Linked DNA regions of Homo sapiens. The protein of the gene in region 2 purifies or fractionates together with the protein of the main gene of each other region. This does not show direct contact. Each region holds a gene or a part of one and is shown on either strand. Other genes may lie near its edges.

Evidence for each region.
Region 1: the proteins of SLC34A1 (region 2) and TYMS purify together in Homo sapiens (affinity purification with mass spectrometry; one large-scale study listed by BioGRID and IntAct). This does not show direct contact.
Region 3: the proteins of SLC34A1 (region 2) and ATP2C1 purify together in Homo sapiens (affinity purification with mass spectrometry; one large-scale study listed by BioGRID and IntAct). This does not show direct contact.
Region 4: the proteins of SLC34A1 (region 2) and DPY19L4 purify together in Homo sapiens (affinity purification with mass spectrometry; one large-scale study listed by BioGRID and IntAct). This does not show direct contact.

What each region holds. Positions count from the first base shown.
Region 1 is NC_000018.10:668,220-676,771, reverse strand, and holds the end of TYMS (thymidylate synthase), read right to left. Parts: intron 7,701-8,552; coding exon 7,599-7,700; intron 6,455-7,598; exon of another isoform or gene 6,081-6,454; coding exon 5,905-6,080; exon of another isoform or gene 5,393-5,904; coding exon 5,321-5,392; exon of another isoform or gene 3,913-5,320; coding exon 3,775-3,912; 3' UTR 3,194-3,774; downstream 1-3,193. UniProt on the Homo sapiens protein: Catalyzes the reductive methylation of 2'-deoxyuridine 5'-monophosphate (dUMP) to thymidine 5'-monophosphate (dTMP), using the cosubstrate, 5,10- methylenetetrahydrofolate (CH2H4folate) as a 1-carbon donor and reductant and contributes to the de novo mitochondrial thymidylate biosynthesis pathway.
Region 2 is NC_000005.10:177,394,410-177,396,890, reverse strand, and holds part of SLC34A1 (sodium-dependent phosphate transport protein 2A), read right to left. Parts: intron 159-2,481; coding exon 42-158; intron 1-41.
Region 3 is NC_000003.12:130,949,730-130,958,568, reverse strand, and holds part of ATP2C1 (calcium-transporting ATPase type 2C member 1), read right to left. Parts: intron 4,749-8,839; coding exon 4,593-4,748; intron 3,558-4,592; coding exon 3,489-3,557; intron 2,466-3,488; coding exon 2,390-2,465; intron 1-2,389. UniProt on the Homo sapiens protein: ATP-driven pump that supplies the Golgi apparatus with Ca(2+) and Mn(2+) ions, both essential cofactors for processing and trafficking of newly synthesized proteins in the secretory pathway.
Region 4 is NC_000008.11:94,784,061-94,792,899, reverse strand, and holds part of DPY19L4 (probable C-mannosyltransferase DPY19L4), read right to left. Parts: intron 5,007-8,839; coding exon 4,848-5,006; intron 3,155-4,847; coding exon 2,990-3,154; 3' UTR 1-2,989. UniProt on the Homo sapiens protein: Probable C-mannosyltransferase that mediates C-mannosylation of tryptophan residues on target proteins.

The DNA.
Region 1 (8,552 bases), on a different chromosome or scaffold from region 2:
CTTGAGGGTACATAGGAGGCTTCAGTAATAATGGTAACCGTTTTTCTCTTCAGGGGGGTAGTGAGTAGACAGGTGCTGTCTTTTAATATAGCCGAACTATTTTATACTGTATTAGTCTATTCTTGCACTGCTATAAAGAAATACCTGAGACTGGGTAATTTATAAAGAAAAGAGGTTTAATTGGCTTACAGTTCTGCAGGCTGCACGGGAAGCATAGCGGCTTCTGCTCAGCTTCTGGAAACTTACAATCATGATGGAAGGTGAAGGGGGAACAAGCACTTCTTATGGCCAAGAGCAGGAGGAAGAGAGAGTGAGGGGGGAAGGTGCTACACACTTTTAAACAACAGATCTTGTGATAACTATCTCGAACAGCACCAAGGAACGGGTGCCAAACCATTCATGAAGGACCACTTCCCATGATCCAATCACCTCCCAGCAGGCCCTGCTGCCAACACTGGGGATTACAGTTCAACATGAGATTTGGGCAGGGACACAAATCCAAAACAAATCCAAACCATATCAGCCTGCCTGTCACAGCTGTTCAATAACAGGCGATGGAAGTCAGGCAGCAGAGCTCGGTCACTTGCCCCAAGCCTCAGAACTACAAAGTGGCTGACGCAGAACCTGAACACAGATTGACCTGATTCTAAATCCTCTGCTCTTCATCTAAATCATTTGTATAGCTGAAAGGAACCTCATTTGGTGATTTTATTTTTTGGGTGGGGAGTATGGAATGTATTTTATTGTTCTGCATCTGGGTTTGCTTCCTTAGATGTCTTGGTTCTTGGATGGAGGTGGGTGTGTCCCACCTCCCTCAGTTGTGGTCCCATGGACCTGTTCGGATTGTTTTCCAGGTACAAAGTGTACCGAGAAAGCCTCACAGTGCTAATGCTTCCTAGATGCCCAGCTGAGGCAGTGACAAAATGGCCCTCCCAACCCTACCTGCCAAAAAAACCCCAAGCCCCTGGCAGCTGCTGCAGCCATGTGAAAAAATACAAACGCTTCTTGAAAAATAGATCACAAAATGTGGTGATTTTAATCTATTCATCTGACTTTTGACCAGAGGAACCCAAATAATTCTGGATATTTACAGAGTCTGAATTGATCCCTTTTAAAGGGCACCACAAAACCTCTAGAGGGACTTCGTGTGTTCATGTCATCAAAGTCCCCACCTCACATTGCTATATTTTAGAAGAAAAGGACCTGAGGCACAGAGGTTTAGGGACTTGCCTAGAAACGCATGGTAACACAGCTAAGCCTTGGCCAACACTGTCAATTGAGTGGTACTCGCTCCTTCTGCTTTAAGTTAGCACCACGTGAATAATCTGACTTCAGGCATCATTGCCCCGATCTGATTCCCTCCTCCTAGGGTGTGTGAGTATGTTGACCACCTGCATGAGCATTTCAAGTATCCCGTGATGATCCAGCGGGCTTCCTACATGCCTCCCAAGGTAAGCTGTGGCCTGAGGGCCCCTGTAGAAGAGATGCTGCCAGCCACTGCCACGCCTGTCTCGTGAACTAGACTGTGGAGCACCAAGCTTTGACTCCTGTTTGTTTGCAATATCCACTAACAAACGGTTCTTCAGTTTGTCTGTATCAAAATCCTCAGGCCTGAGGGCCAGGGCTTGGAGGTTCAATTGCCTCTGACAAGGCTTCTGTAATACTAGCCTTTCCTCACTAGTGGAGATCTTAACATTTGCACTCCTTGTGCAAAAAAACCTGGCACCATCTAGCAAGTTAGTGACCTAAAAAGTTTGGACTACAATTGTGTGGCTGGGGCCATTTATTCTGATCATGTTCAAGAGATCATGGCTCATTTTCACCAACAGAGGTCAAACTATTATCAAAGAGTTTGATGAGTTAACTAACTCTGGCAAGTAGCCAGTAAAATATGTTCCTCTGCCCTATTATTTCCAACAGTCTCCAAACTTATTTTAAAAATATTAATTCAGGGCTGGGCATGGTGGCTTACGCCTGTAATCCCAACACTTTGGGAGGCTGAGGCAGGTGGATCATTTGAGGTCAGGTGTTTGAGACCAGCCTGGCCAACATGGTGAAACCCTGTCTCTACAAAAAATACAAAAAATTAGCCGGGCATGGTGGCAGGTGCCTGTGATCCCAGCTACATGGGAGGCTGAGGCAGGAGAATCACTTGAACCTGGGAGGTGGAGGTTGCAGTGAGCCAAGATTGCGCCACTGCACTGCAGCCTGGGCAACGGACAGTGACTCCATGTCAAAAAAAAAAAAATTAATTAATTGCCTCTGGCTTAGACGTAAAAGCATTTCTTGGAGCAGCATAAATGCATAAAATCTGTTTTTGTTCCAGGTGGTTGTTAACAGGACTCATTTTTTTGGTCTTTGATAGGATCCCGGCTACTCAACAGAAATGAAGGAGGAATCTGTAAAGAAACACCAGTATCCAGATGGTGAAGTTTGGAAGAAACTCCTTCCTGCTCAAGAAAATTAAGTGCTCAGCCCCAACAACTTTTTTCTTTCTGAAGTGAAAGGGCTTAAAATTTCTTGGAAATAGTTTTACAAAAATGGATTTAAAAAATCCTACCGATCAAGATGAGTTCAGCTAGAAGTCATACCACCCTCAGGAATCAGCTAAGTAATTATTACTTGATTCTTTTAGCAAATCAATGCACGTTATCCTACTTAATCCTTAAATAAGTTTAGATTTAACTAACCCAAAGTCCAGGAGGATGTTCTTACAAAAATAGCTATATCAAGGGCTGGCACCTAGACATTAAACTGTAATTTGAAAATAAGCAACATGTTGCATAACTTGTTGGAATAATTCCTTGTTCTGTTTAACACTTGTCATAAATTAGCAGAATAAAAATAGTCGTGCAACACCGGGGGTATCTGGTATGCAACGAAGGGAAAAATATTTCACTGATTAACCCCGAAGTGGTTTTGCATCTTTTCCTTGCTTAATCTAAGCATATTATTAGAGAAGTCACACCATGCTGAAGCTAATGAGGGCAAAATGGTAGTCCATAGATTATTTTAAAATAACCCTTTAAGGTTATAAAAGTTTAAAAAAAAAAAAAAAAAACTCTATCCTAAATGGTCATTATATTTTGAGGATAAGATGCAGTTAAAATGAGAAAAATAGGGCAAAATATATTCACTATTATTTCTAAAATATACTCTTTTAAGTAGCATCCAAACCAGAATACAGCACATGTTTACTTAAGGAGAGTTCTTTAATCTATTTTAGGAAGGAACTGAGCAGATAAGTGGCAGTACAGAATGAACAAAGCGTGGACGAATGCAGAACACTTCTTTATTATAGCAACATATAAAACAACTATAACTTTAAAGTTCATAACCACACTCTACATCATGATCGATGGTGTTACTCAGCTCCCTCAGATTTGAGGGAATAGCTTGTGAAATTCTTAAAATATTCTAAAAATATTCCAAAAATAGCTTGTGAAATTCACCAACCTTCTTTATAAGTACGTGGGATTGAAATGCACATACATGTTTTTGCTAAGAGCACATACATTTCATTCTCCTCACTTTGTTCATAACCTCAGCATTGTCAGATACCCTCAGTGAGTTAACTCAAAGCCTTTTATTATGGAAAGAACTGGCACAGTTACATTTGCCAGTGGCAACATCCTTAAAAATTAATAACTGATAGGTCACGGACAGATTTTTGACCTAGTTCCTTTTTCTTTTAGAGCAAAAAGAACTTTTACCTCGGCATCCAGCCCAACCCCTAAAGACTGACAATATCCTTCGAGCTCCTTTGAAAGCACCCTAAACAGCCATTTCCATTTTAATAGTTGGATGCGGATTGTACCCTTCAATCTGAAAGTCTTCAGCTTTGAAGTCATCAATTTTCTCAACTTTTCGAAGAATCCTGAGCTTTGGGAAAGGTCTGGGTTCTCGCTGAAGCTAAAAACAAAATAAGGCCATTATTTTGCCATAATTGTACGACCTGTTGTAATTGCTCCTCATGTCCGTGAAACAAGTACACAGGATGTGATCAACAAAGTTCTATTTTACAGGAGTATGATCCTGTCGATACCTTGCCGTAGGTTATGTAACATGATTGGAGCGCAACCAGCTGTTCTCTTGCACAGATCGAGAGTGAGGGGTATTTTGTGACATTACACAGCATCAGGAGCCTGGTGCCTCATCAGGTGTAAGTTCTTATAACCACTCTTGGCAAATTTATTAAAGACAGGAACACAGTCAATCTGTAACTCATAGTAGCTCTACGTTTACTTGAATTCCACAATCCCTAACCCATCTGTCCCTGGCAGAAAGAAGGAAAGATGACATGCATGGACAGTGAACAGAAAGGGATGAAAGCCAGGATTCCTGGGATGAACAGACAGTGGCAATTAGGATGTGAAGACAGGTCACAACCTATTACTATGTCTAAAAACGACCAGAGCAGAGAGCCAGAGAGAATAAGCCTGAAGTCACCTCCACTCAAAAGCAGCCAAACTCCCTCAAAGGAGTAACTTTTAAAACCTGGATCTAACCTGGAAGGGGCTAAAAAGTGTCTGGTTCTGAGTTTTTTTCCTTAAGGCTCATGAAGCAGATGAACTTACATTTTTATTGCCATTTCATATCAATTGTTGGCTGCTATAACTTAGGGATTTCAACAGACTTTTGAAGTTTGGACCTAAATATTGTACTTAATGTAAAATTAACAAAAAATATTTATGGCCAGGGTGGTGGCTTATGCCTGTAATTCCAGAATTTTCGGAGGCTGAGGCAGGTGGATCACTTGAAGTCAGGAGTTTGAGACTAGCCTGGCCAACATGATGAAACCCCATCTCTACTAATAATACAAAAATTAGCTGGGTGTGGTGGCATGTGCCTGTAATCCCAGCTACCTGGGAGGCTGAGGCAGAAGAATTGCTTGAACCCGGGAGGTGGAGGTTGCAGTGAGCTGAGATCGCACCACGGCACACTCCAGCCTGGCCGACAGAGAAAGACTCCATCTCAAAAAAAAAAGAAAAGGAAAAACATTTGCACTTCAATTCTCCTTCAAGTTAAAATGAGTTAAAATGCCCCCTTTTGGACAATCCCCTGGCTTGAATGTGGCTCTTCCCTCTCTGGTACTGGTGCTTAGTACCTCACAGCACCTGACATGTTAAGTGCCCATGGTTGCTGAGGCAGATGCCTGCCTTGTCCTGCCCACCTGCCCACCACTTCTCCCTAAACTGAAGCCCCACATTTGGAGCAGTCATCTTTATCTTGGACACAGCATTGAGCAGATGCCTGTTCCACAGTCAACCTTTTATCAAGAGAAGGTACCAAACCCAAAAGTATAACATCTAATTCTTACCTGAATTTTCAGTGGCTCGATGTGATTCAGGTAAATATGTGCATCTCCCAAAGTGTGTATAAAGTCACCTGGCTATAAACCCGGGGGAGAAAGCAGAACAGTATGTTAGTTTCAATTCTTTAAAACATCATTTAAAAACATTAGAATATGCAGACACCGCAAGGCTTTTTTTAAAAAAATAATTTAGTGTAGCTTTTCCATTTTTTTGTAGCAACAGCATCTTGTTATGTTGCCCAGGCTGGTATTGAACTCCAGACCTCAAGCAATTGCTCCTGTCTCAGTCTCCCAAAGTGCTGGGATTACAGGCATGAGCCACCATACCCAACCTCAGCATAGCTTTTGAGAAAATCCATAGAAGCTGTATCACAAACAACCTGTATAGATCTGTTAGTGCGTATACCACAGGGCCAGAAAACCTTCCAGAAGAGGAAGGTTTCAAAGTAAAAGCTGGTTCATTTCTTACTTACACATATCAAATTTAAAAGCTAATCAGAGACTAAACTCTGCAATTTGTTTTCCCATATTAAAGAACTGAAGAGCTCAGTGTGGTAGGCTGGCAAGTCACCCTTCCCGAGACAGCCCACCTTCAGGCCCGTGATGTGCGCAATCATGTACGTGAGCAGGGCGTAGCTGGCGATGTTGAAAGGCACACCGAGGCCCATGTCTCCCGATCTCTGGTACAGCTGGCAGGACAGCTCACTGTTCACCACATAGAACTGGCAGAGGGCATGGCATGGAGGCAGCGCCATCAGAGGAAGATCTGAGGAACCAGCAGAGGAAGATAAGGAGGGATGGTGGTTTGAAAGACCACAGCTAAAGGCAAAGTAAAACAGGAGAGAAACAGAAGCCAACTCATATGGTGGAGACCAGGAGAGAGAGCCACTGGGCTGCAGTGATGTCCATAACAGCCTCTGCAGCGATGGCACGGAGCTGAGGGAGACTATCCATCGGTGCAAGGTTTCTGCAGGTGTCCATTTACGGCTGAAGCAATGCTCTTCCATCAGAGCTGAAGGGATCTGGGCTACCTCGTGGCACCAGATTACAAATACAGCAGGAATAATTCTGTTTGCCACAGGAAACTGGTGCTTCTGGTACACCCTCCTATATTAAAAGTCTCTATTACATGGCCAGGCACAGTGGCTCATGCCTGAAATCCCAACACTGGGACGCCAGGGTGGGCAGATCACTTGAGGCCAACTTGAGTTCGAGACTAGCCTGGCCAACATAGTGAAACCCCGTCTCTGCTAAAAATACAAAAATTCGCGCGCCTGTGGTCCCAGCTCTGGGGCTGAGGAATGGGAACTCACTTGAACCTGGGAGATGGAGGTTGCCGTGAGCGGAGATCACACCACTGCACTCCAGCCTGGGCAACAGGGTGAGACTGTGTCTCAAAAAAAAAAAAAAAATAAGTCTCTATTACAGATGCAAGTATTTCACTCTAAGTACTTATGATATCCTGATAGAGTTTTGTTGTTGTTGTTGTTTTTAAATATTCAGGGTCTCACTCTGTTGCCCAGGCTGGAGTGCAATGGCGTGATCATGACTCACTACAGCCTCAAATTCCTGGGTTCAAATGATCCTCTCGCCTTGGCCTCTGGAGTTGTTGGAATTACAGGTGTGAGCCACCACACCTGGCTCTACACCCTGGTAGAGTTGAATTTTACAATATAATTGTTAAAAATGTTAGTGAGGTGGCAGCGAGCTGGAACTTCATCTGCTTCCATTTAAAATGTTAACATCTTACATGTAGTTTCTAGGCAATTTAAAACCCTTTTTGGTGTAAGAATGAGTATAAATACACAAATTAAGATCATCTGGTTGGGAGGCTGAGGCAGGCAGATCATCTGAGGTCAGGAGTTCAAGACCAGCCTGACCAACATGGTGAAACCCCGTCTCTACTAAAAATACAAAATTAGCCGGGCATGGTGGCACATGCCTGTAATCCCAGCTACTTGGGAGGCTGAGGCAGGAGAATCACTCGAACCCAGGAGGCAGAGGTTACAGTGAGCCAAGATCACGCCGTTGCATTCCAGCCTGGGCAACAGAGCAAAACTCTGTCTCAAAAAAAAAAAAAAAAAAAAAAAATCCTCTGGGCCCAACCTCATGATCTGAAGGTGAAAGTGCAGCAAAATGTGACTTGCCCAACGTCACACAATCAACCATGTGGCTGGGGGAAGTTCCCAGGGTCCTGCCTCCCTCAGGTGCCTCTGCACAAAACCAGATTGCTTCCCTCTAAGAGTATGGTTAGTATAAATGAAGACGACGGGGTTCTTTCAACCTCTTGGATTCCAAGCGCACATGATGATTCTTCTGTCGTCAGGGTTGGTTTTGATGGTGTCAATCACTCTTTGCAGTTGGTCAACTCCCTGTCCTGAATAATCTGTAGAATTGTCAAAAAGAGAGGACAGGTACATACATTAATCACACATGTCATGAGATGGCCTTAGAGGTCATCTATTACAGTCTCTTACCCAGGGTCCCCCCTTGACCCATGGCTACAAGACATCTGGTGCATCCTGCAAAGTTTGCAGATCTCGGTGGGTTGAGTTCAAGGCCCTGTCTGACTCCTGGCTCTGTCCTCTGGAGCCCTAACAAAGTCTTTTTCCTCTTCTACACAGTCCTTTGAATATTTGGTCTGTCATGGAGTCACCTCCTCCTGTTCCCCCCATAGCTAACCCTTTCCAATCTCAACAATCTTAATTTCTTCCAGTGCTCCTCGCAAACTTAGGCTCTAAACCCATCAGCGATTCTTGTCACAATTTCACTGACAAAATCTACTTTATCCTTGTCTCACAGAGAGTGTTGTATCTTATGTAGAATATAGTATTCCATATACTTTCCAACTAACAGAGGACCATGGATTCCTTTCTATCACCTCAGCAGCATGTTTCCAACACTTCCACCTAAAATTACTTTAGAGTTTAGCAGCTCAACACACGACTGACTTGGAAACATCAGGAAACCTCTGTAATGATTACACCACCTTGTACTTTGCTCCCATTTCTGGTCTCTGGATTTTAATCCCTTTCCTTCCTTCTGAGATGGAACTGGAAGCTGAGAAGTGATTTGTTAACTGAAGTGCAGAGCTTCATAATCTCCTTTGGTTAAATTTCTACCTATTAGTGTCAGACTATATTCTGGTTCAGTAGTTCTCAAAATTTTGGGAGGAAAGTCCTCTCATGGTCACTGTTCCGAAAAAGGTAACATCAAAGATTTTAAAAAGATGAACCTT
Region 2 (2,481 bases):
AGCCCTGGCCCACCCCACTCCACCTCTACATGGGCACTCACCGATGAGTGGGGTGATGGCCGAGGTGAACACAGAACTGCTCTGGACCACGAAGGTCATGCTGGCGCCCACCACCATGGCAAAGTAGCCTGTGACCCAGGTGAAGGGGGCAGGGAAGTCTGCAAGGAAACCGCATCCCAGCAGGCTGGGGTCAGAGCGGGGACATTGGGAGAGCAGACCTCCGCGGGGGCACTGGGAGAGCGGACCTCCGCGGGGGCACTGGGAGAGCGGATCTCCGCGGGGGCACTGGGAGAGAGGACCTCCGCGGGGGCACTGGGAGAGAGGACCTCCGCGGGGGCACTGGGAGAGCGGACCTCCGCGGGGGCACTGGGAGAGAGGACCTCCGCGGGGGCACTGGGAGAGAGGACCTCCGCGGGGGCACTGGGAGAGCGGACCTCCGCGGGGGCACTGGGAGAGCGGATCTCCGCGGGGGCACTGGGAGAGACGACCTCCATGGGGGTTTGCTCCCACTGCAGTTGCTTCCACTTGGCCTCTTTGCTCCTGGATTGAAGGCCTTTCTCAGCCTGGCTCCGTCAGGCAACTGTGCCTTTGATGGGGCTGTTCCCTCTGCTGGGAATATCCTACTCAGCATCTGAATATTCATCCTCAGACTCAGCATGGATGTCACTTCCTCTGGAAAGCCTTCCCTGACCCCCTGCTCTGGAGCAGACTTTTTCTCCCTTCTCTGAGCTCCCACAGCCCCATGATACCCCTTATTCTAGTACTTGTCATGCAGCCCCTCCCAGTGCATGAAGTTTAAAATGAAAACCAAGGCTGGGCAAGGTGGCTCACACCTATAATCCCAGCACTTTGGGATGCTGAGTTGGGTGGATCACCTGAGGCTGGGAGTTCGAGACTAGCCTGACCAACATAGTGAGAGCCCATCTCTATAAAAAAAATTTATGGTTAATAGGAAGAGGCTGGGCATGGTGGCTCACACTTGTAATCCCAGCACTTTGGGAGGCCAAGGCGAGAGGTTCACTTGAGGCCAGGTATTCAAGACCAGCCTAGCCAACATGGCAAAACCCTGTCTCTACTAAAAATACAAAAATTAGCTGAGTGTGGCGGTGCACACCTGTAATCCCAGTTTACTCAGGAGACTGAAGTGGGAGGATCACTTGAACCTGGGAGGCAGAGGTTGCAGTGAGCTGAGATTGCACCACTGCACTCCAGCCTGGGTGACAAAGTAAGACTCTGTCTCAAAAAACAAAAAAGGGAAAATGAAAATCAAATGGTGTTGCTCCCTTACCCCAAGTCTTCTGAGTGCTCATGTTACCCTCAATAAAGTCCAGGCTCTGAGCAGAGCCTGGAGACCCCATGCTCTGGCCCCTTCCGTGCCACCTCACTGACCCCACTCAGGCAATCCCTTACCCTGCTCCTGCCAGCTACTGGCCACCCTTCTGTGCCACGGACCTGCCATGCTGGTTCCTGCCTCTGAGCCTTTGCACATACTGTTCCTCCACCCAGAGTGCTCTTCATCCGCATCGTGGCTACTTGTGTCTGTTCAAATGCCAACTGCACTGAGCGGCCTCAAACAGCGCATTGGAAACCGTCTCTTCCACACCCTACTGCACTGCCATTTTTGCTATGTCCTTGGCAGGTACCTCTCTCTGAATTTATCCCCCTAATTCATTTTCCTTCCTATTCCTAATTCATTTTCTTTTTCTATTTTTATTTATTTATTTATTTTTGAACTCTGTTGCACAGGTCGGAGTGCAGTGGTGCCATCATAGCTCACTGCGGCCTCAACCTGCTAGGCTCAAGCGATTCTCCCACTCAGCCTCCTGGGTACCTGGGACTATAGGAGCACACCACCATGCCCAGCTAATTTTAAAATTTTTTGTAAAGACAAAAGTCTCGGCCGGGCACGGTGGCTCATGCCTGTAATCCTAGCACTTTGAGAGGCTGAGGCGGGTGGATCATCAGGTGAGGAGTTTGAGACCAGCCTGGCCAACATGGTGAAACCCTGTCTCGACTAAAAATACAAAAAATTAGCCGGGTGTTGTGGCCGGCACCTGTAATCCTAGCTACTCGAGAGGCTGAGGCAGGAGAATCACTTGAACCCTGGAGGTGGAGGTTGCAGTGAGCCAAGATCATGCCATTGCACTCCAGCCTGGGCAATAAGAGTGAAATTGTCTCAAAAAAAAAAAAAAAAAAAAAAAAGACAAAGTCTCACTATGTTGCCCAAGCTGGTCTTGGACTCCTGGGCTCAAGTGATCCTGCTGCTTCAGCCTCCCAAAGTGCTGGATTTACAGGTGTGAGCCATTTGCCAATCTCATGTATTTTTCATTGCTTTCCTCCCCCTGCTGGGCTGTGAGCCCCTCAGGGCAGGACCCAACTCTGTTTGTCTCACCTCTGTATACCTGGCACTACACCTCCCTTGTCACACAATGGGGGCTTAAGTACTCTTTGTTGATTGAATCAAACAATGGTCCTTGAGCA
Region 3 (8,839 bases), on a different chromosome or scaffold from region 2:
AGACTGCAAATCAATATGAACATTTAAGACAAGTTTTTTTTTTCATCTTTATATAACTAAAGAATAATTATCCAAATAGCAACCTTCTAAGATCCTATCCCAAATACTATCATGATGAAAGAAATTATGTCCAAAGGATTATACCAGGGGTCAGCAAACTATAATCTGTGGGTCTCCTGTCTGCTTAGGTAAATGAAATTTGTTGGAACATAGCCACACTCATTTATTTACATATTTTCTATGATTGCTTTCATGCTAATGGCAAAGTAAAGTATTTCCAACAGAGACCATATGGACTAAAATATTTACTATCTAGTTCTTTACAAAAAACAAAAAAAAACAATTGCTGACCCCTGATCTAGCTCTTGACCTTGGCAAGAAAAATTATGTCCAATGTAATATACTAACATATAACCAGAGATCGTAAAGTTGAAACATATTTATTACTAAATTTGAAATGGTTTATGGTATAGTGCTAATAGAAACTACAAAGATTTAATTGGCTAGAATGTCATTCGATCTATCAAATTCACTATAAAATTTCTAGAAAATGAGCAATAATCAAACGGAAGAAGTTATGAGGGCATACACACCAGTAAAACAAAAATAACTAAGATAACTTCCTACCTTCTACTTTATGTTTACAATGAAGATAGATGGATAAACAGAATTACTATTTACAAAGTTATTTCAACTAATATTGTATTAACAGAAATATTGCTTTAAAATTGCATTAGTCCTGTAATCCCTGCACTTTGGGAGGCTGAGGTGGGCAATCACATGAGTTCAGGAGTTTGAGACCAGCCTGGCCAATGTGGTAAAATCCCGTCCCTATTAAAAATACAATAAAAAAATTAGCCAGGTGTGGTGGTGCACACCTGTAATCCCAGCTACTCGGGAGGCTGAGGCAGGGAAATCACTTGAACCCCAGGAGGTGGAGGTTACAGTCAGCCGGGATTGCGCCATTGCACTTCAGCCTGAGCAACAAGAATGAGACTCCATCTCAAATAAAAAAATTGTATTACTGACTTTGAAATACTAAACTAGCTGGAATAATTAACACGGTAAGAAAATTAAAGGAGAAAAGACTCCAAAATTAATGCAAGTGCTTAATGTGTGATAAAAACGTGACTTCAATCCAATGAATAAAGACTGGATTACAGAATTAATGGGATAATTAACTTGAGTAAAAAAGTTAAAACTCTGCCTTAAGCCATGTACTAAAATAAATTTTAAATAAAATAGTAAAATGTCAAAAATAAAAAACTATACAACAATGTTTTAATAAATGTTCTTATAAACATGAGGTTGGGAAAATCTTTAGGAACAGAACAAAACCAACTTAATTGCAGAGATTATCAATAGGAGGGTGATAACAGAATCTCAAGGAAAAGGGGATGTTTTAACCCATTTGTGTCTGAGGTTGCAATTTTTTGAATTTTTGCAACCAGACCTTGGCAATGACCTTGAGCAGTAGGATATAAATAAGTCCCACATGCTTAGCATTCCAATAATGGAACACTAGGCATAAATGGTTAATTACATATATTGTCCTCTTACCAAGTTTATTCCACATGCCTCAAAGGCAACTTAAACGGGAAAAAAAAACTTATACAACAAAAAGATTGATAATCTAGTCATATAAAAAGCTTTTATCAATCTAAGACTCAAGACACAAGAAAAGGGACAAAAGAAATCGTTGGCAGGTCATAAAATGAAATAAAAATGATCAACCCACACATGACAAAGCATTCGGTTTCCCTAATAATGAACTGTGAAATCAAATAATGAGAACTCTTTTATTTACAGTTGAAGTTAATGACAATACTTAAAGCTGGCCAAAAATTTAAAAGTTACATGGATCCCCTTTGACTAAATAATTTTATTTCTAAGAATTTTTCCTTAAAAAAGAGAGGTATTTACCAGAAGACACCACACTAAAGAAGTATTTATATGACCAAAAAAAAACCCTCAAAAAATCCTAAATGTCTAGAAGAGGTCTTCTTATATGTTTTCCCACAAAATAGAAAACTATACAACCTTTATGTTTGTTTTATGTGACCATCAATTTAATGACAAGAGTTTTATGACAGGATATGTGAAATAAAAATAGAAAAGCAGTCCATAAAACTATCGTATTACATTCTTGTTGAAGACTAGAAAGACAAATACTAAAATGTTTCAAGAAATATTTTCTGATTACAAGAATCAGAGTTCTATTTTTTCTTTGTTGAAATGAACAATGGCTACTAGTAGTCTTATAATTTTAAAAAGTATTAAACTTAATAAAAAAAAGAAAAGCCAATAAATAAAACTAGAATACCACCACCCTTCACATTCAAAAAACAAAACTCAAATAAAAATATATACATACTCACTCTTCTCTTACCTATTATACCAAAGGAGTAAAAGGAAAGTTGTTTTCCTAAGAGGTCCATGCTCTTCTGCAGAGGGGTTTTTGGTGCCTTGATAAATTGAAGAAGAGTGTCACCACAATTAGCTATATTTACTAAGCTTTATCAAGTGCCAGGGGCTTGCTAAGTGCTTGACAAAGCAATTCCTAAGTTAACCATACAACTCTCCCATAAGGTAAATAATCACCTTCACTGAGAAAACTGAGACTTAGATTTTACACAATGCCCAAGGTCACACAGTGAGGAACAGAAATTCTCTATTTTTAAAAACCTGTTTATTATTTGAAAAGGTCCGTTCTCTCTATGCTTCCTTTTGAGGAAAAATCTGTTCTCCCTCCTACCAACCACTGCAGGACTTCATTACCATCAGCTGCTCTCTCACTTGCTTTTCCAATTTTTCCCTTTTGGTATCCACAAACATGCTAGTAACCCAGGTCTTTTAATCCTCCCTCAACTGCTAACCCTCTTCTCTATTCATCCCTTCACTGCCACGCCTCTTGGAATGAGTTCCCACTTTGCATCGCATACTGGAGTTTTGGCAGGTTACCTGAGAAATCCAGAGGATTTGGGGAGAACACGACATTTGCAGAATGAAGCTTCTTTTTATAATAAGAAAGTATTTAAAATGAACTCATCTTTAATACTTTTAGCCGAGAATATCTTGTAGGTTATTTTACTTGGCAATCTTTTCCCTGCCACCCTTACTTGGAATTATGTGAAGTTGAAAAAATTTGATAGAAGACATATTCCAAGGTACAAATATACTAATTACTAATCCTTAAAATTACCACAACACTAATTTCTGAAAATAATAAGATCTACAAATAAGTGGCTATAAGCCTTTTTCTGCTATAAACAATGAGTAAAGCTCAAAATCCTTTAGAATACTAACAACATCAATTTAGACCTTTTCAATTACAGGCTTTCCAATTATGTTTCTAAACAGAGACAACTGATTTCCATTCTGAATAAAATATTGCTCTCAATAGTATATAAAATAATCCAACATTCTCTACTTACAATGAAGAATTTCAGATTTGGAACAAATACATCATTAACATATTAAGTACTCACCTCTTCTGCTTGCATCATTTTAAAAACCTCCCCAAATTCAGAATTTTCTCCTGTTCCAATGACAACACCCTAAGGGGAAAAACAGGAAAATACATTTACATCCAGATGAAATGTAAACCAAAACACATACACACACACATCCAACAACTTTCAAAGTCTTACCTACAGTGAAGATGTCTAACATACACACTCCTAAGATTTCCTCAGCAAATTTACTTTTTTATGTTCCTGTCATTAGCATTTGCCCCTTATGATTTAAACTCTGGAAACAAACATTACATTAAACGTATTGCTGGCCGGGTGCTGTGGCTCACGCCTATAATGCCAGTACTTTGGGTGGCCGAGGCGGGTGGATCACTTGAGGTCAGGAGTTCGAGATCAGCCTGGCCCACATGGTGAAATGCCATCTCTACTAAAAATACAAAAAATTAGCCAGGCATGGTGGGACATGCCTGTAATCCCTACTACACAGGAGGCTGAGGCAGGAGAATCACTTGAACCTGGAAGGTGAAGGTTGTAGTGAGCCAAGATCACGCCACTGCACTCCAGCCTGGACGACAAAGTGAGACTCCGTCTCAAAAAAAAACGTATAGCAGACTCAATTCTGAGGCCTATTTTTTGCCTATATTAGTATTTCTGAAATACAAACATGTATTATACTCAATAGGAGACATTTAATATAGTTTCTTTTTACCCCTAGTGAATGGTGTCTTTTGCACTGGTGGAGTATCAGAATTCAGGAAAGGAAGCATTTGAAATCGATCAACAGGTGAACAACATATAGTCAGATTATTATAGCCAGTATCATATTAACTAAATTAAAATTTATTTAATAATAAACACATCCATGAAAACACTGTTTCTCTCTTTAAAAAGAAACAGGTATTGAGGATTATCCATTATCTGGGAAATAGCAGAACTACGGAAATATTATACTTTGGGGACACAGATTCTCCCCAGTTTCACAAATAGATGTAATGGGTTAAGTTCAATTTTATCCTTTGTCATGTATTTGAAAAATTCCACATAAAATCAGCAAAAAATAATTGAGAAAATAGTTTCAAACAAAGGAACTGCTTTTTTCAAATCAGGAAAAAAATTTACCTTTGCTTTGCCACATCTGACCAGTGTTCCCATAAAGGCAATGTTACTTCTCGATGCAAGATCTCCATTAGTTGCAGCTGGCTGAGGAGCTGTCACCTTAGAACAAGGCGTTGTCTCACCTGTCAAGCTGGACTCATCAATGGAAAGATCCACAGCCTTAGGGAACATAAAGAATCCCAGATTCAAATTTTGTGCTACATTTAACATCTCTAGAGTTCATAACCATCATCACTTCTTCCTCAAACATCCCTTTTCCATTGATTAGCCACATCTTGTATCAAAACCATCACTCTAAAAGACCAGAATCAGTACAATCATATTTTAAAATACAATTAAGTCAACAAAATCTAAGACATGCAAAGTAGAATGCTGTACCATGAGACTAGATTAGCCTAAAATTGAAAATACAACTAGGAAAAATTTGACACTAGCTAAGACTCAATCTTCATCTAGAGAAAACTCAACTTTTCATGACAAAATATTATTTCCTAATTTTGTCAAGTACCTAAAGTTCTGGAAATATGGCTTGGCAGATTAAAACCATCGACGATGACTGAAAGTGATAAATGAATAAAGGGGAAAAATGTTACTTAGAAATCATTTCATCATTTTGGAATCAATTTTCATAAAATCATTATTGTTATACATGCCGTTTATTCCAAATTACAATTTGCAAGACTCAAAAATGTATACAAATGCTTTCATGCAGATCATAACTATCATAATATCTTCCAACTCTGCAACAGGGCTCAGTTTTGAAGGCTTCACTCCTGACACAGTATTTACCTACCCAAGCATACAGAAAAAAGAAAAAAAAAACAATTTTATGAGTATAGATACATACACACATACATACATATATACATACATACATACATACATACATACATACATACATACGAACAAGTGAGGGAGAGGACTAGGGCCAAGTAAGTCAGAAATAGTTAAGAGTTAAACAGCTTCCTCTACTGCAGTGCTCTCAAAACCTTCAATACATTAACATGAATCACCTCAACAGGAATACAGATATACAGCAAAGCTTCTGAAAGGAGGACAGCATCACATCCACTACCTCAGAACTTGTTAGAAGTTAAGAGTCCTTTGCTCCACCTCAAACACAGGGTGGAAAAAGTAAACCTAACAGACAGTATTTACAAGCCCTCCAGGTGATTCTGTTGCAAATTTCCATCCATTTTATTCCAGAAGCATTTATTCAAGGGTCCTTAGGATACTCTGTAAGAAACTAGGAATTAGTTCATGACTTTACTGATTTTACAGGCTCATTCATTCACCCAACAAACATTTACTGACTATCAGTGTTAGGCACTGAGCAAGCTCCTGGTAAGAAAACAGGATAAATTACTGCACAGTATCACTGATATTTTAGGCTGAGTCAGTATTCTCAATCAGGCCTTTCTTAACTCTCAGTTCACACTATGTACCAAGTATTCTAAATTTAAATCTTCTTTTTCTTTTCTTTTGGTGGGGGGTGAAAAGTTATAAATTACATCTTTTCAAATGGTTCACTTCTGAGCATAAAAACCTCAAATAACCTCACGTAAAATGATTATTAAAAATTGGTTCACAGAATCTTCATCTCCTCAACAAAACTGTTTTAATTTGATCAACAACATTCCTACATTCACTTAACAAATATTTATTACTGCTTACAATGTGCCAGGCCCTGTGCTTTATCATACACAGTAGGATAATCAGCAGTGAATGAAACAAAGTTTCTACCCTTGGATATTAATGGGAAAGTGATTTTAAACAAGCACGAGTATATAACATAATGCCAGGTAGAGGGAAAACAACAAACATAATAAAGATAGAGCCACATTTTAGAAGAAAACATTCCCCAAAACCAGGTAATCCTCTGCAGAGCCCTGACAGACCTGAGAGCTCCAAGGCTGGGCCATAATTAGGGAGAGTGGATTTCATGTAAAGGCAACAAAAAGTACAAAGACCTTGGGGACAGGAACATGCTTGGTGTGTTTGTGTGTTAGGCAAACATAACTGCAAAAATAACAGTTTACAATAGGTTGTTAAGTTTTAAAATATTCATCATGAAAATAAATATAACTCCAAAGAGACAAAATTGTGCTAGCATTTCCCAGAAGTTTAGATAATATGACAGTGGAATGCATTTTAGTATCAAAATAAGCTTACAAAAATTATTCTTTAAAATACAGATCAATAGTCATTTAGACTTTAAAGGATTTTGCATTTAACATTAATTGTGTATACAAACACAAACCAGTTAATAAATCTGAGTTCATTACCTTAACGCAACTGAAGATTTAAAAAACACCTGTCATGTTCAAAGGCAAGTGAATTTTTCTTTATTAAAGAAACATATTTATTTGACTTTTATTTCCACGTTAACCTTGGAACTATTTAACTTTTCACACTAACACATTTATTAGCAAGGTAAGAGAAACAAATCTTAAAATGGGCCCTTCTTCAAAGATAATGCCAATACTAAAAATCAGCTGACATTTCATTGCTTACCATCTGCTAGGCACTATGCTACATATCTATGCTAAATTATCACATTTAATCCTACTAACAACTCCTATGAGGCAAGTAATTACTATTATTATCTGTTTTACAGGCACTGAAAGGTTAAGTAACTCATCCAACGTTATAGAGGTACAACACTATGCAGATAAAATTCCAGTGTTGAAAGACTTTAACTCCAGATTCCTCTTAATTATTTAGAGGATCAATCTGCAAATTATTTCTCCTCCCCAATTTTGTAACCACTTATAGAAAAAGACAGTATAACACATAAAGCAAAGATATGTAAAAAATTATGTATTATCTGAATTACAAGTAAATTTATATAAGGTTCATTTTATTTAGCAAGCTCATATTTAATGCTTGTTACAACAGTCAGAGTTGCACGTAACTTTCCAAGATCTTAATTAGGAAAGAGACCCACTAATATTTAAAAATACTTGTAGAAATTTACAGAATTCCTTCTGTAAGAGAAGTAAAACTCATGTTTTCCCTTTGAAGACTTTTGCTTTAAATGTAAATCTTAAACATGGATAAATACTAACATGAAGTGACTAACAGAGAAGGAATTTTTTTTTTTAATCTGTTGTTTTTAAAAAGAGAAAAGCATGATTTCATGGCTCTGTCAGCAACCTAGCTCTTTGGTTTCAGCCTCAGAACAACAATCACTTAAGAGAGCCCTTGTCTGGTGGAACAGACAAGCTGATGTGGAAGAAAAAGGAGCTCAGGACCCTAATTTTTTCCTATATCATTATAAATTTGCAACTAAAACTCAAATGATCATGAAATTTGTCTAAATCTTACAATGTCCCAATCTGCAAAGATTTCAACTATCTGTTGAATACGAATACTTTCTAAGTCACAAGTTATTTTCTCTTAATAGTGATTGCAAGAGTTTTCCTAGGAAGTAGTTTTGAGGGAGTAGAGGGAAAGAAAAGGTGGAATTTAATAAATTAGGCAAGCCTATTACAGTTTAATAAAGTCACAATTTAATTCGTCTGAGAAGAAAGATATTAGAGTCATTATTCATTGCATTCATGAGAGAGGGAAAGGTAGGATAAAGTGAAATCAAAGAATCAGGCAGCCCCATGACAGCCAGCCAGAAGTTTAAGTATTAAACCCTCAGAAGACCTGTTAATGAACAAGAAAACTGATTTTCACTTTCATTCTTCTTCAAGCAGTCTGGTGGAGGTGTGAATATGCTATAAAACAGTTCAAAAATCAGAATATAAATAAGAATCAAGACGACTATATAATCCACAGTCTAAATATTTAACATGTACACAATAAAAATGATTGGAAAATTCACAAGATTATTATTCCCATAAAACACTAGAGAGAAAGAAATCAAATGCCAGTCACAAAGGTTTCCTGAAAGGCAGAAAGTACTTTTAAAAATTCAGGTTAATATGGAACAACTGGCAGCTACAAATAAGTTCTTAAGCTAAAGAACGGTTTGACATACGGTACACTGATAAGGCAATCACCTCTCGAGTCTAGAATTAAAAGCAAATCATTAAAATGCAGATTAGAAATGGATTTCTCTCCCCAGAAAACAATCTTCCAAAATATTCACCTGTAGCTGCCTGATCATGATAAAATTTCTTACTTCTGTTCTCAAAAATTAACATACCTCACTGTTTATGCAAATGAAGAAAAATGTAATTTAAAATCTTCATGTATTTAACTTACTAACACTCAAAGCCAAACCAACCAAGTGTTATGTT
Region 4 (8,839 bases), on a different chromosome or scaffold from region 2:
AACTTAGGAGGCTAGAGATCCCATCTCTACTTTTTTTTTCTTTTTGAGATGGAGTCTTGCTCTGTTGCCCAGGCTGGAGTGCAGCGGCATGATCTCGGCTCACCGCAAGCTCCGCCTCGCCGCTTGACGCCATTCTCCTGCTTCAGCCTCGGAGTAGCTGGGACTACAGGCGCCCGCCACCCTGCCCGGCTAATTTTTTGTATTTTCAGTAGAGACGGGGTTTCACCGTGTTAGCCAAGATGGTCTCGATCTCCTGACCTCGTGATCTGCCTGCCTCAGCCTCCCAAAGTGCTGGGATTACAGGAGTGAGCCACTGCGCCTGGCCTCCATCTCTACTTTTAACAAAGACTTGCGCCGGGCGCAGTGGCTCACGTCTGTAATCCCAGCACTTTGGGAGGCTGGGGTGAGTGGATCATCTGAGGTCAGGAGTTCGAGACCAGCCTGGCCAACATGGCGAAACCCCGTTTCTACTAAAAATACAAAAATTAGCCGTGCTTGGTGGCAGGTGCCTGTAATCCCAGCTACTCCGGAGGCTGAGGCAGGAGAATCACTTGAACCTGGGAGGCGGAGGTTGCAGCGAGCGGAGGTTGCAGTGAGCCAAGATCGCGCCATTGCACTCCAGCCTGGGAGACAAGAGTGAAACTCCATCTCAAAAAAATAAAAAATAATAATAATAATAAATTCAAGGCACTTGTATCAGTGGGTTTGCAGTATCAAGGGCAAAGAACATTTTTTATTTCTTTGAGAAATTCCTTCCACCCAAAACCCATAAATTCTTCTCCTCTCATAGTAGATCTTTATTGTCAAACCTAACAACTGTAAGTTACCTAAGTGGAATTACTTGTAGAATTGTGAATCATTTGTTCACTCTACAAATAAGTGAAGAAATAAACTAAATGCTTTCCACTTAAAGTTGTCTAGTACTATTAACTGCAGTTAAAACAGAAGCAAATAAACTTATCTGTCATATTCAATATTGTCATTTCCATAATGAAGCTTTCTTTTCCTTTTCAACTGATGCTGGATGAAAAATTCATTATTTAAAACATCCCATTAACAATTTTTCCAGATCAATTTTATTTAAAAAATAAGTTGACAGAAAGAAGCAAAAGCAACTTACTAATATGTCAAACAAAACACAAGTACCAAACCTAATTCAGCACAGGTAACATAATATAAATCAACAAAAATTCGATTAAATATTTCACACTAGATAAAAAGTAGGGTGTTCTATTTCCCCTACAAAATATGGAAGCTGACTTTTCAATTACATTGTTTTACATGCTCTAATCACAAGTACTACCATGTGACTATTCACTGTGTGCTTAGGTAACTATGGTTATATTTTCAGAAGGCTTGAAGCAAAATACTAGTGACTCACTATTCAGATGTACAGAGTCAACCTGAGGTACACTGCCTGCAACTATCTTAATATAGTTAAGAAATTACGTATAAAAGTGAAATGAGAACCACTGAAACTAATCTATCAGATATATGACATCACCATCAAACAATTCTTCAGCTCCAAAAGAGCAAAGCATCTGAGAGTTAGTCTAAGAATGCATGTACTTTAACAACACATGTATAACAGAAAATAAAGACAACGGAAAAGCTCCCTTCTAATGTAGTGTACTTTTACAACACATATATAACAGAAAATAAAGACAATGGAGAAATGCTCTCTTCTAATGTAGTAATTTAGAGTACTGAAAATGCAATTTTTGCAGCACTTTAACAAGTGAGAATTATGAAAATCTGTTCACTGAACAGGAATATAAGGAAAAACTAAACATGTATCCCAACTTATTAAAATGACACATCTATAGGCTACATCTATCCTGAATCTCTCTATAAGGCCAAATTAACTTTTCACAATTTTCTCTTAATAAATGATTAAAAATATGAAAATACTTAAAGGAACATAGCATTTAGACTGTGAAACTGTGTTGTAAATTTTATTATAGTTGTCATTTTTTCTTGATGTTGAAGACTGCATCACAGTTTCATAAATAACATTGCTTGTGTTTTATAATATATCTGTATGCAGAGGTACGTTTAACAACATCTGCATGTATCCCCAGAAATTGTTGCTAATTTTAGAACACATATTTTTATTCTGATAATGATTTAATTTTTTTACTTAGTACTTCAGTAGAAAACATGTGAATAGATTGTATGCCCCATATCAGTATTTAAAAAAAAAACCTGAACAACATTCTTTTAAATGTCCATTTAACAAAATATATGTTAACGGTTATTGTTTTATCATGATTAAATTGGTATCAAATTAATAGGCATAAGTGAAAAAACTAATCACTTACTAGTCATTTAGAAAATGCAGTAACATCATGCATTATGTATTACTAAGAAAGTTCTCACTTAACATAAGCAGTAGATGAGGAGAACAGTATCATGAAAATTCTAAATATATCTTTATGTATATCCTTAAAAATCACTTTCCTTTATATAATTTCCATTTTAATTTAAATGCCACATATCTTCAGCTAACATTTAAATTAGTTTTTATTGTAAAACTTCAGTTGTTATACATCATAAAATACCTTCAGAAACTTGCTTGAAGGTCGGAATTATTCTTTCTATTAAATAATTATATCACATTATTTATTAAATGTTATGTTTGAGAAATGTATCTGACCTTGCACATATTCAAATTCAAGATCAATATTATAATAGAATGAAGATTTTATGGGGAAAATATTGCAATCAGTAAAAGTGTTAAAGACCATGTAACGGTAAGGAAGACACCTGTCTGGAATATTGCAGAGTGGTAGATATCACATTTAATCAAAGGACAGTAATGCTTGATCTTCTATTTCCCACAGAACTCTGGATCCAGTTAACAGCAGAAGGGGGAAAGAAGCAGCAATATTTCAAATGTCCATACTCTGATCTGCAAAAGACACCGAGTAGGTAGAAGAAAACTGCATTTTACTTCAGGTAGTCTTTGAAATGAAGGCTCTGTTATTTTTCAAGACTGGAAGGATATCACAGTGTTGATTTTATATACAAAGTAGGATCTGTTCCAGTATACTCTAGTGAAATAATTCACATATGGAGAATAGTTAATTTTGACCTCATGACAAAATCGCCCATATTTTGAGTAGGTTAGCTTGTCACCTTCTTCACAAACCATCTATTAAAAGATATAAAACATAATATTAAAAAGCTTATTAAGCTTATAGCAGAAATGCAATCAATATACAAATGAGTATATTTATATGAAAAAACACATTATTGCTAAACATTGTCTATAAAACATCTCACTGTTAGCAAATAGAAGCCTTCTTCATAAGTGAGTCACCATGCCCACTATACTCCTGAACTTCTCATTGACACTGAGAAACCAGCACAAAGGTTTCCAATTTTTAAAAGATTTAATCCTAAAATTTAGAAGGCAGTGTTTCCATAATCCATTATCATCGCTCCGAAGACCTTATCATGCACCCTACCAAGGCTGAGAAATGAACATATTATATTCCTAAATATATTCACTCTTCTCGTGTAGAATTATTTAGTAAGCAAGGAAACTTTCGTGACTTAGTGCAGACCTTTACAATTTCACCGAATGATGTTCACTAAGATAGCTTAGTTAGCTTGAAGAAGTTTTTATAAAAAAAATTAAGTAATATTTTAATGGCTATGAAAGATGTCAGATAGCCAACTTTAAAAGGATGGATTAGCTTAAGTCCATGCCAGGCATGACATGAAAGGAGAAGTAAGCTGATCTTCAAAACAGCAGAAAAGTGGGTATCAGAGCAGAATAGAAAGGCTTCAGAGAGCAGATAGCAAGACAGCACCAATTACTGAAACTGTACCCGAGGCTTCATAAAATTCCATTTGTGTCACCAGTAAACCAAAGATCACAGCCACTAAGTACCAACAGAGAAATTCAAAATACATGTACCATAAAACAGAGTAAGTTTATATTACAAGATTAAGGGGTCATGAGGAAAAGATAAGTAGAAATCACAAAAAGTAATTTCTTACCTCCAAACTGATCTTGGATAAGACAAAGAGCTATGATTATTTAGGAAAAGACAGAAAAAATCTTGGCTGCAACCTGAATAGTATATCTACTACCACTTACAATGACTTACTAAACTTTTCTTATGATCCCTCACTCCCAGCTTTCTCAGGAGTCAAGAATCCATTCCAGCTAGCATTAAGTCTCAGATATACACACTGCCTTCATTGGAAGGCCATGGGGGCTGGGGGGGAAGACACATGCGCGCGCGCGTGCGTCAGTCTTAGGTGGTCTTCTTGTGGAAAACACAGCTTGGTAAAACAGCCGAAATCAATATAGAAATTAAGATACAGCCAAGTCCTAACAACTAACATGGCTTTTAATACATTCGTTTTTGTGGATAATAGGGACTCAATGTACAGGCACTGTGTTAATTTAGCATGCAATTTTTCTAGATATGAATCAAATTACAAGAAATTTCTCAACATAAGAATATAACAAGGTAACCAGTTGCTCTTTAGATTATTATAATAAAATAAAATCATCATTCAAATCAAATTATGCCATCTTTTGTTTATGAATGTTGAAACCTGAATAAGTACAGGCAATGAATAAGGAATTCCAGTATTGGTAATACCATTATTATTTTTTATTATTTTTGCAAAAATGCCCAGATTTTCTTTTGTATGTTGAAAAAATACTCCAAACTACTTTTAAGAAGCTTTCCCCATTATTACATAACTCAATTATATTCTTAGTTAAGTTCTAAAAATAAAGTTTAAAGATTATAAGTTTAAAGTCATTTTTCTAAAAAAAAAATATATATATATACATATATATAACTTTCCAAATGGTTACTTACGTGGCCATTTGCAATGTCTAATAAATCTTTAACCCTACAGCCTCTCATGGGTCCCACCTCATTGCAGATAGCATCCTCTACAATTAGGTAATTAGCTTTGTAAGATGTCAGTATTTTATAAATATCCTCAGCAGATCGCTTTGAATAGATTTGGTAGATCTGAAAGAATATAATTAAAATAAAACTGAAAGAATATAATTAAAATAAAATTTAAAGGACATTTAAAACTTCAGTAAATTGAAACTATACATCAAGCATCTACTGTGTTCTAAGTACGATTATATATGAAAAATATATTTATTTTTATAAATAAATGTAAATATTCATCTATATATCAAAACTCATGTTTGGATTATGTGGTGCTTTTTACTATAATTTTTCTGAACTTATTAGATAATAAGCTCTGGATCTTATTAGATAATAAAGCTTTTCAGTCTTTCTGAAATGTTAATATTGGATCAACTCTTGATATCCTTCAAAAAGTAGTAAAACCACAAATATTAGGCCCATAGTATCATATACTATTTGTCCTGAAAATACTGAGATTTGAAATCTAGAATGAATAAGATTCCAATCTATTTGCAGAATATCCAGTAGCTGCCTCCTACCTGTCACCATAGCTGCCTATCTAGTACCTTCAGTTCCCACGTCCACTGACATGCTAGGAATACCCACCTTCAACATTCTGTGGCACACAGAATGCCAATACATCAAGAGGAAGTGTCTCCCTCATTTCACTACACTAAATACGTTTCAGTGGGAATGGTTCTATCCTATCTAGCCTATACCTATTCATAGTTATTTACAATTTTATTTATTTTTAAGTGTTAAGAAACTGAAACATACTATTGGGGCATTAAAAAAAAACCACTTCTATGCGATTGTAACAACATTACTGATAGCCTACAGCACAGTTTCTCAACCTTGGCACTATTCACATTTTAGGCCAGATCATTCTTTGTTGGGACACAAGGGAGGATGTTCTCTGCAATGTAGATCAGCATTCCTGGTCTCTACCCACAAGATGCTCGTAGAACCCCTCTTCCAGTTATGACATTGAGACAACCAAAAATGTCTCCAGACACTGCCAAATGTCCCCTCGGGGAACAATTCTCCCAGGTTAAGAATCACTGGCCCAGGGGATTATATAAGGATTAGCCACATATTATGAATTAGAGACTCTGTGTAATTTAAATGATATGGTTGGCCAGGCGCAGTGTCTCACGCCTGTAATCCCAGCACTTTGGGAGACCCAGGGAGGCGGATCACTTGAGATCAGGAGTTTGAGGCCAGCCTGGCTAACATGGCAAAACCCCATCTCTACTAAAAATACAAAAATTAGCTGGGTGCGGTGGCATGCACCAGTAGTCCCAGCTACTCGGGAGTCTGAGGCAGGAGAATTGCTTAAACCTGGGAGATGGAGGTTGCAGTGAGCCGAGATCATGCCACTGCACTCCAGCCTTTACGAAATTCTCTAAAATTGAAAAACAGAATATTGGGAACTTAGGTTCAGTTCATCATTGCTTTCAGATATGAAGTTACCATTTAAATCCATACCGTACCAGAGTGAGACTCTATCTCAAAAAAATAAATTAATTAAAAATAAATAAATAAATAAATAAATAAATGGCCGGGCATGGTAGCTCACTCCTGTAATCCTAGCACTTTGGGAGGCAGGGGTAGGCGGATTGCCTGAGCTCAGGAGTTCAAGACCAGCCTGGGCAACATGATGAAACCCTGTCTCTACTAACATAAAAAATTAGCCAGGCGTGGTGGTGTGCACCTGTAGTCCCCGCTACTCAGAAGGTTGAGGCAGGAGAACTGTTTGAACCTGGGAGGCGGAGGCTGCAGTGAGCTGAGATTGTGCCACTGCACTCCAGCCTGAGCGAGACTCGTCAACAACAACAACAACAAAAATTAAAATTAAAAAATAAATAAATGATATGGTCTCATTTATGGAGTTCAGTTTGGATTTTAGCTTAACAACAAATTTACTCAATACCTGCTATGTGCTACATACCATAGAGAAAGACAAAGGTTTCAAAAACCATGGTTACTATTCTCATAGACAAGTTACATAAAACTTAAAACTCTAAAATGTTTAAATTAGAACCTAAATAGAACTCTGACCTAATTACAAGTAATTCTGAAATTCCATATTAGAAAAAGACCAATCAAAGAAAACAAAGTCACAGAGTTTGTTGTTTTAAATCCACAAAAAATAAAATTCAGGAATATGCTGTCTATATTCTGCCTAAGCAACTCTATCTTTTGGAGGTGCAGCAAATACTCATCAGAGATGGCTGCTGTCTCTCAAGGAAATCATTCTCAGGTAGATCTCCCCATCTCTGATCTCTCCCCTGCCTGCTTCAATCTGTTCTTTCTGCCATGACCATAATTAACTCTCCAAAGCAGATCTAATCATTCGACTGCCAGGTTTACTAAAAGTCATGTCTCTTAACTGCCTCAAGGATAAGTCTAAATTTTTCAGCATGACATTCCAGGTCTGTCAGAATTCTGCCTCATTTTCTTTCCTAGTTTCAAGACTATACAAATTCCTTGGCTCATGTTACTTTTTCAGCCTGGAATCATATATATTTCTTTTCCAAACAAGTTTCCAATCATTCTTCAAAGCCCAGATCAAGGGACTGCCTTTTATGACAACTTCTTAGACTTTTGTAGGCGGAATTGTTCGATTGTTCCTGCTTTTTTACTCCTCTTTGTACCTTGTGTGTGTCTATGTATATGTGTATGCATGCAACAACCACTTAATAGTACAGAATAATAACATAATAGCAAACTTTAAAATTTTACTGTGTTTCAGGCATTGTACATTATCTCATTTAATTCTCACAAGTAGGAGGTGAGAACTATTATTCTCACTTAATCTCGAGATTTAGTAACTCGCTTAAGGTCACGAAGCTAATACACAGCAGAGCTAGCATTTGGGTTCAGGTACTCAAATTTCTGAGTCTGCATTCTTAATCTCTATATTACTGTATTTCTTCCTTAACTTAGAATATGCTTAAAAACTCTATGAAATTATCTAAAATTGAAAAACAGAATATTGGGAACTCATGTTCAGTTGATCATTGCTTTCAGATATGAAGTTACCATTTAAATTCATACCAAACATTCAAAATAAGACATTATCTAAACTATAATTAATTAGATACCATTCTAATGTTATACTGAGTCAATAACTGCCCATTTATTAAAAAATAAATTAGTGTTTTATAAGCAATAATAGAACTTTAGCTGAGAAAGACAAAATGTAGTACCAAGACATTAATTGACAGCCTTCTTTTAAAAATTTGATTGAGGGCTGGGCACGGTGGCTCACGCCTGTATTCCCAGCACTTTGGGAAGCCAAGGCAGGTGGATCACCTGAGGTCAGGAGTTTGCCACCAGCCTGATCAACATGGTGAAACCCTGTCTCTATTAAAAAATACAAAAATTAACTGGTCATGGTGGCTGGTGCCTGTAATCCCAGCTACTCGGGAGACTGAGGCAGAAGAATCACTTGAACCCGGGAGGTGGAGGTTGCAGTGAGCCAAGATCGCACCATTGCACTCCAGCCTGGGTGACAGAGCAAGACTCTGTCTCAAAAAAATAAATAAATACAATAAAAAATAAAATAAAAATTTGATTGAGAACAATATTTTAAAAAGAACGTTAGCTGGCTGTGGTGGCAGGTGCCTGTAATTCCAGCTACTCAGGAGGCAGAGGCAGGAGAATCGCCTGAACCCAGGAAGCAGAGGTTGCAGTGAGCCGAGATTGCGCCACTGTACTCCAGCCTGGGTGAATTAAAAAAATGTTAGCCGGCTGTGGTGGTGAGTGCCTATAATCCTAGCTACTCAGGAGGCTGAGGCAGGAGAATCGCTTGGAGGCAGGAGAATCGCTTGAACCCAGGAAGCGGAGGTTGCAGTGAGCTGAGATTGCACAACTGTATTCCAGCCTGGGTAAAATATTACACATTAGGTCCCTTGATA